Linked DNA regions of Homo sapiens. The protein of the gene in region 1 purifies or fractionates together with the protein of each later gene. This does not show direct contact. Each region holds a gene or a part of one and is shown on either strand. Other genes may lie near its edges.

Region 1 (3,430 bases):
GGCACAAAAGCCCCAAAGCCCCAATAGGACAGGGTTCAAAAGAGAAGGCAGCAATCCCAGGCTGGAGTATCCACTTCAGGTCCACTAAAGGGAGATGGGGAAGGTGGCCTGTCCAGAAGCCTGTGGGACAGGGTAAAGGTCAGCTGGGTGACTAGGCTGTCCATCCTAGAGAGCAACTCTGGGTTCTACTGCCAGACCCACAGGTGAGCCAGGCCACAGTGCACTGGAGGTAGGCATCAGGGAGCAGTCTGACCCAACCCACAAAAGGGGGGATGGGGCCTGAGTCATCGGACGGAGGGCAGCTGTGACCTGGCACAGAAGCATGGGGCTGGGCCAGGACATCCAGGGACTTCTCACATCTGACCAGAATCAAGACTGAAAATGGGTTTCTTCTGCCAGCTCACTTGCTTTGCTACCAGGGCTATACCTGCTTTCTAAAAATAGCTTCCCACCTATTTCCAAGGTTTCCAGTTGTTTTACCTACAAGGTATCTGTGCCCTGAAATAACTCACACATAAAACCATCTGAACCCAGAGCCTTTTCTAGTGATAGTTACCATAAAATAATCCCAACAATTTATATTTTTCTAAATAAGGTTTTTGTTTTTTGTTGTTTTTTTTTTTTTGGGATGGAGTTTCACTCTTGTTGTCCAGGCTGGAGTGCAATGGCGTGATCTCGGCTCACCACACCCTCTGCCTCCTGGGTTCAAGCAATTCTTCTGCCTCAGCCTCCCAAGTAGCTGAGATTACAGGCATGCACCACCACACTTGGCTAATTTTGTATTTTTAGGAGAGATGGATTTCTCCATGCTGGTCAGGCTGGTCTTGAACTCCTGACCTCAGGTGATCCACCCACCTTGGCCTCCCAGAGTGCTGGGATTACAGGTGTGAGACACTGCTCCCGGCCAGTTTCTGAATAAGTTTAATCAGATGCTTGCTAATTAGTTTTTCCTAAAATAGTTGGCTGTATTTCCAATTCACATTTCTGCTTTTTCTTCCTACTTTCCAGGAAGGTGTTGTTTTGTTGTTTTCACAATTGTAAACCTGAAAGGGACTTGAACTTCTTGTCCAAGCACCAGAGTGGGCACACACTGCACACACTGGGCGGCTGTACCTGCCTATCCTGTGGTAAACTTGGCTCCAGGAGCTTCCAAGCTCAGCTTCCACTAGAAAACCCCTCCTTGTGTGGAACAGGTCTTTCTTCATTCCATTCCTCTGGGCCTGGGGCCTCACAGCTCTGGACTGCTGCCTGGTCCTCACTTCACCTACAGCTCTCGGAAGTCAGTTCTCTACCTGCAGAGCCACCCACCCCCTACTCAGCCCCACCCAGCTTCTTTGATCAGACCCTTGGACCCTCAAAGCCCCTGCCAGAAACCACAGCTGCAATGCTGACCTGGAATGCTCATGGCCAGGCCTCTGCTCCTGACAGAATGGGAAACAAAGACTTGCTGGTAGGCAGCCACTGCACCACCTCAGCCAGTAATCCAACACGTGTTTAATGAGCACCAATTGTGTACCAGGCCACAGAGCTGACTAAGACAGAGCCCCTGTGCTGAGGGTCACAGTCTGCCAGGAGGGAGATCCAAGTCATTTACACACTAGGGCTTAAGTGCTGAATCCGCAATGCATGCGAGTGCGGAGTGAGCAGGGGATGGCAGCACAGCAGCAGGGAAGAGGAGCCTGCTTCAGAACACCAGGCACGATTAGAGCTACAGTGTTAACACACAAAGGGCGAATGCCTGCAGCTGAGCCTGGCAAGGGGCTTGCATCCCACCTTCCTGCATCCAAACCTTCCAGCTGCCCAGAACTGCTGGTAATCCCACAGGAAACATCATTCTTTGCCAAGATGCTATCCCACTCATCCCCCAGAATCAAAGTGGCCACTTCCTCCAGGCAGCCTTCCTCACATTCCAGCTGGGACAGAAGTCACAGGGAGCAGAGAGGGTGGGGCTAGGGGGACAGACACAGAAACCCCATACAGGAACGAGGTCCCAACAGGGCAGACGTGGCAGACCCAGTTCAGTCCCAGCCAGTGTGGAAGACACCAAGGGGGGTGTTTTATGGGGGTGGAGGTGACAAAGATGATGCAACTATCTGCTGAGAGTTGATCTACAAAACGACCCCCTCGTGGGAGCAGGCCTGGGTGAGACGGCACTCCCAGAAGACGGGCAGGGATGCAGCAGAGAGCCAGCAGCAGGGAAAGGGCACAGGGCGGAGGTCAAGCTCTGCTGGAGTTGGGGGAGCTGGTTCTGCTCAGCGCAGAGTCCAAAACAAGCGCATCTTGCCCAGCTATGGGGTCTGAAGTCATCTGGGGACACCACTCTGCTCTGACTGGGGACTATGGGGCGCTCAAGCCACACAGGCCACTTCATCATGAGGGGCAGCATTGTTCCCACCTGGGCTGTGTTCAGAACCCAGGAGAAAGTGGTGGCTCTCCTGGGGTCTCCGGGGCCTCCACCACCTCCTGTGGGGTACCTAAGGACACCTCCTGGTCTCCCTCTGTCTCCAAAACCTCCTCCTCTGTTTTCTGGGGTTTTGGACCTCCTGGATGAGCTGGGTCTGGTCTCTGGGCAGGAGGATTAGCTGACTCCGACAGTCTAGGGACAGGTGTGGGGGCTGCCTCCTCTGGCTGGGAAGAGGCTGGTTCCACAGGACCAGGCTTGGAGCTACATGTAGAACTGGGCAGGACTGGGGGCTCCTTGGGCCCAGGGGTGCTCTCCTTGGTCAGCTGCTGCTCGAACAGAGCACTTCTAGATACAGAGTTGGACCCAGACACAGCAGGGGTGGCCATGGCGGCTGGTAAAGACCTGGGGGCAGTACCCATGTCGAGTGCCAGGCCCTCTAAGAACCTAGCTAAGTATTGCCTCACCACAGGCAGCTGAGGGGCCACTGGCAGCTGGCTGGAGGCCAGGGGCAGGGGACAGGTAACCACAGCATGGTACTCAGCAAAACTGTTCGGGTCTTGAACAACTTCCTTGAGATCCTGGCAGAAGAGCTCGTAATCGTCAGGCAGGGGCAGGTCCCCATCAAGGTAGGGGGCTGCCCAGGCCTGGGCTCGGCCTGTTAGGCGCCTGAGGATCTCGCAGACACGGCTGATGTTGTCCTGATAGTGCTCAAAGTGGAAGGACATGTAATCGCCCAGCTGGGCCAAGAAGCGGTCCAGTAGCCACGGGGAGCCATCAAAGGTGCCTGGGTCTGAGCCTGGTACCCAGCAGAAGTCCACCCTGTGGGGTCGGGAGCTGGGCATGTGCCCAGCTAGGGGACCCCTTTCTGCAGGTTTACCGCCACAAGTGCCACTAGCTGTGCTCTTCTGCTCCATGGTCGTTCGCACACACACGGTGTCCCCACAGCAGGGCCGCTCAATCCAGGGATCCACAAGGGGGGTGTATGCCACCCCAGGAGACGCCTTGTCCATCTGCTGCCATGGATGT
Region 2 (3,816 bases), on another chromosome or scaffold:
GCAAATTGGAAACTGAAGAACAAAGCATTTACTGGTGACAGATTTTGACAACCTATAATAATAACATTAAGATCATCCAAGAACAGGGATAGCCAGTTGCAGAACAGTATGTGAAAAGATATCAAAAGTGCTGAAATTTCTGTACAGTAAACTCACTTCTCTGAACATGGATTATCTACTCTGGGTTATTTATGATAGATGGTTAATCTGAGATCTGAGCTTCCAGTCCCTGAGTAAGTTTCCGGGCTGCCTTCCTGTGTCCATCAAGTGGAGGCACTGGTCCAATCCTCTGGTTCAAGGAAAGGACAGTGAGGCAGGCAGGAAAGCAGCTCTCCACTGCACCTCCCCTGAGCACTTACATGTGGGAGGTTCTATCATGTGCACGCACACACGCACCTCCCCCCTCCAAGGCCAATACATTCACGTATCATGTATTATGGTATGAATTTTGGATTCTATAAGCCTGGATTTGTGTCCCAGCTCTACCAACTATAGCCTCAGTTTCCTCATCTGTAGCTAATGCCCACTGAGGGGCTGCTATGATGTTTAAGCGATGACCTTTGTCAGGGGATTGTCCACCGTGCAGTATCTGCTGTTATCATCCATAAGCATTGGGAGAAGCCTAAACCTTGCAACGGCACTGAGATCCATGTTGTAGGTGTGTGTGAGCAGGTCAGGATGTGCTCTGCAGGCGTGTGCACAGAGGCAAAGTAAAGATGGAGAAACAAGTATGCAAAGTGCAAGTGCCTGGCTCTGATTTTCCAGGGAAGCCAGCACCACGGAGGATATGAGAATATATTCCAACTCAGGTCTTAGAAAGGCAGATGCAGCACTCAGAAACTCTCCATTCAGGACCAACGTCCTGCATCAGAAAGCTCATTTTGTCTCTCCAAGGGGAGCCATGGAAGCGTATACGTTTTTCACGATGAGAACTGAAATGCTTGCTGTCTTCTTCCCAGTCACCTGTGGTCACCTGTGGGGCTTTACTAAGGATACTGTCCTGAGCCTGCTACCTTCCCTCTAGCCAACAGGTGCTTTTTCACTGCCAGCATTTCTCAGCCTCCAGGACAGGCCGAGTCTTGCTCATGGCTCCCCTCCCTCCTCCAGGCCCACAAGCTCCATGTTGGCAGTGGTGGGAGCAGGGATGAGGGCCCAGTGTGGCCCAGGTCTGGGTGCTTCCTCCTCCCAAAGATCAAGTCCTTCAGGGCAACCACCTAATCCTGCTCCAGAAAACAGCAGTGTCAGACTTCTGAGGGGTCGAGGAGCGGGGTTCACAGACACAAGTTCTTAAGAAGATGCTAAAAATGCAAGCTGGCTATGTCTTGCTTTTCTATACAAGTGACTTGCCCCAGCAAGGGGATTCTCAATGGAATGTCTCAGCAGCAAGATGCAGAACTGCCCTAGAGCTAGAATCCAGAGAGCTCAAGGGAAGGTATTAAAAGGGGAATAATAACAACAACAAAAAACAGAGGAGGAGGTTGAAATGTAGCTTTCTTTTCCCCTCCTAAAAGCAAAGCTTTTGGGGTCTGTTTTTACCACCTCCCCCAACCAAAGAGAATGCATTTTTACGAAGCACAAACCTCTTCACTTTTCTGCAGGACCCAATCAGCATAGGCCCACACTAGTTCCTCGTCTAAGCAGTAGGTAAGAAAATCCACGATGTATTCATACAGGTCTGAGCGTGTGGAGTCCTGGACATCGCCATTCACAATGTTCACCCACAACTGGAAAGGAATCAAAAAGAAAAAAAGAAAAAGAAAAGAAAAAACAATCATAAAGGCACATATCTCAGAATTAGTTGAGAAATGGCATATGTTTACTTATTTGGCTTTTTAATACCTTTTAAAGTAGTTGGAAAAACTGTAAATGCTTAAATTTTAGTTTTTTTGGAGAAATAAAGAAATGTAAAAAGACATAGTCCAAGAAATAAAAAAAAAAATTAAGCTCTAGGTTCTTTTATCTTTCTTTCTTTTTTTAACAATAACACAGTAAACAGAATATATGCAGGGAGGTGAATATATTAAAAATGTTTCTTCATGAAATAAAGAAAACGGTCACTGATAACATCTCGACACAGAGAAGATTCACCTACAACCATCAGCCAGGCTCTGTTTCCATCTTCTCCGTCACAGACATTCTTGATTTTGAAGTCCCCTTTGGACTGTGATAGGCAGATGTTGTGCTTTTACAAAAGCTTCAGTGATTCTGTCCCCTGAGTTCACACTGCCTTTTGCACAGGGGGCTCAGGATAGACTCCAGTGATAAAAGCCTTTTGCTTTTTCAGCCAGAAACTTCCCTACCATGTTAAGTGAAGCCTACTTTCAGGACCCCAGAATGAGGCAGCATCACTTGGGGGTAGAAAGGATGACGGTTGCGTGGGTTCCTTCTGCAATACCTGCATGGCGTGCCTCACCCACCCATACACAGCACCACCCCTCCAAGCCACAGCACCAGGAAGGAGCCCAGAAACAGGGGTGGCATATGAATTCTGGAATTCTGATGTCAGCATACGAACATTTTTTATGATACTAGTTTCTTCAACACAGAATTGCTGAAACCAAATAATCACACATACCTTGAAATATGCCATTTTATATAAAATTCTACCACGTATGGAGATTTATCCCATATCACTTCAAGTTTGCAAATCTATCTCTCTACAGCTCTGCTAAAGTTATTACTATACTTATATAAAGCTGTAACTGAGAACACCAGGTTTTTGAAAATGAAAATTTTATCACTGACACCCAAATCTACTCTTGGCCATTGGGTACGTGTTAATTCACCCAACTCCATTTTTTGTTGTTGTTGTTGTTCTGCTCTGCAATCAGGTTACCACAATAGTCTCACAAAGCAATCAAACACTAAATACATGTTCAGCCTTGCCAGAGTCATGAGGTTAACTTTAGCTTGGGGAACATGGCTGATGCTCTTGGCCCCTCACAAAATAAAGCAAAAAGGCACATCAGGAAACAACACGGTGCAGTACAAATGCATAACTAATAACGAAGGGGAGAAAGTCTCCCCCTGAGAGTGTGAGATGAGGCTTTTCTCAAGATCAGTAGCAAGATGTAAGATACAAAATGTGACAATGCTAATAAATCGATGCCATTTTGATTAGGGTGCAGGACCCCTGCCAGGCCAATGGAGCGCGGTTCAGATCCCAGATCTACCACGGACACATGGCCTCGGGCAAGCAACTGGCATGCATCAGCTTTGGTTTTGTCACAGGTGACACAAGGATAATAATGTACCCAGCTCATTGGCAACAGTGATCATCACTAACAGTGGAAATGGTAAATCCGACTATCATTCACTGCCTAAATTTTCTGATAAGGGTAGTGATATATTATGACTTGGAACTCTGTGAGATCATATTTTCATTTCTTAAGTTTTCAAAAACTCAGTCTTGATAATGTTCTTTAAGGAGATGGAAAGACAATGAGAAGAAAACTCTTGGCCAACATTTCTCCAGGAATTCACTTTCTAAAACAGAATCATTTTTATTCTGTATAAAAGGGTGTAGATCAGGCAAAAGTGGTCTCTATCAACTTGTGAATTTTTTTTAAGTAACACTAAGTATTACTTACATGGTGCTGATTTTTAAATCATGTGGAAACCCTTCTAGACTCACCTGAACTGCAGCAGCATCTTGGTTATTATAATGATAGAGCAGTCCAAGTGCAAAATACCTGAAACAGAACAACACGGTAAGTACAACCTCTCCCCATCAGCTCCTGGAGGCGACCTTCACACAGTGACACCCCCAGTCCAAGCTCCCCATATTCTATTCAACTCGAGTTCAGGCTCATGCCT

What was found.
Region 2: the proteins of RTL10 (region 1) and TGFBRAP1 purify together in Homo sapiens (affinity purification with mass spectrometry; one large-scale study listed by BioGRID and IntAct). This does not show direct contact.

The regions. Positions count from the first base shown.
Region 1 is NC_000022.11:19,848,761-19,852,190, forward strand, and holds part of RTL10 (protein Bop), read right to left. Parts: coding exon 2,407-3,430; 3' UTR 1-2,406. UniProt on the Homo sapiens protein: Could induce apoptosis in a BH3 domain-dependent manner. The direct interaction network of Bcl-2 family members may play a key role in modulation RTL10/BOP intrinsic apoptotic signaling activity.
Region 2 is NC_000002.12:105,273,980-105,277,795, forward strand, and holds part of TGFBRAP1 (transforming growth factor-beta receptor-associated protein 1), read right to left. Parts: intron 3,693-3,816; coding exon 3,635-3,692; intron 1,725-3,634; coding exon 1,581-1,724; intron 1-1,580. UniProt on the Homo sapiens protein: Plays a role in the TGF-beta/activin signaling pathway. It associates with inactive heteromeric TGF-beta and activin receptor complexes, mainly through the type II receptor, and is released upon activation of signaling.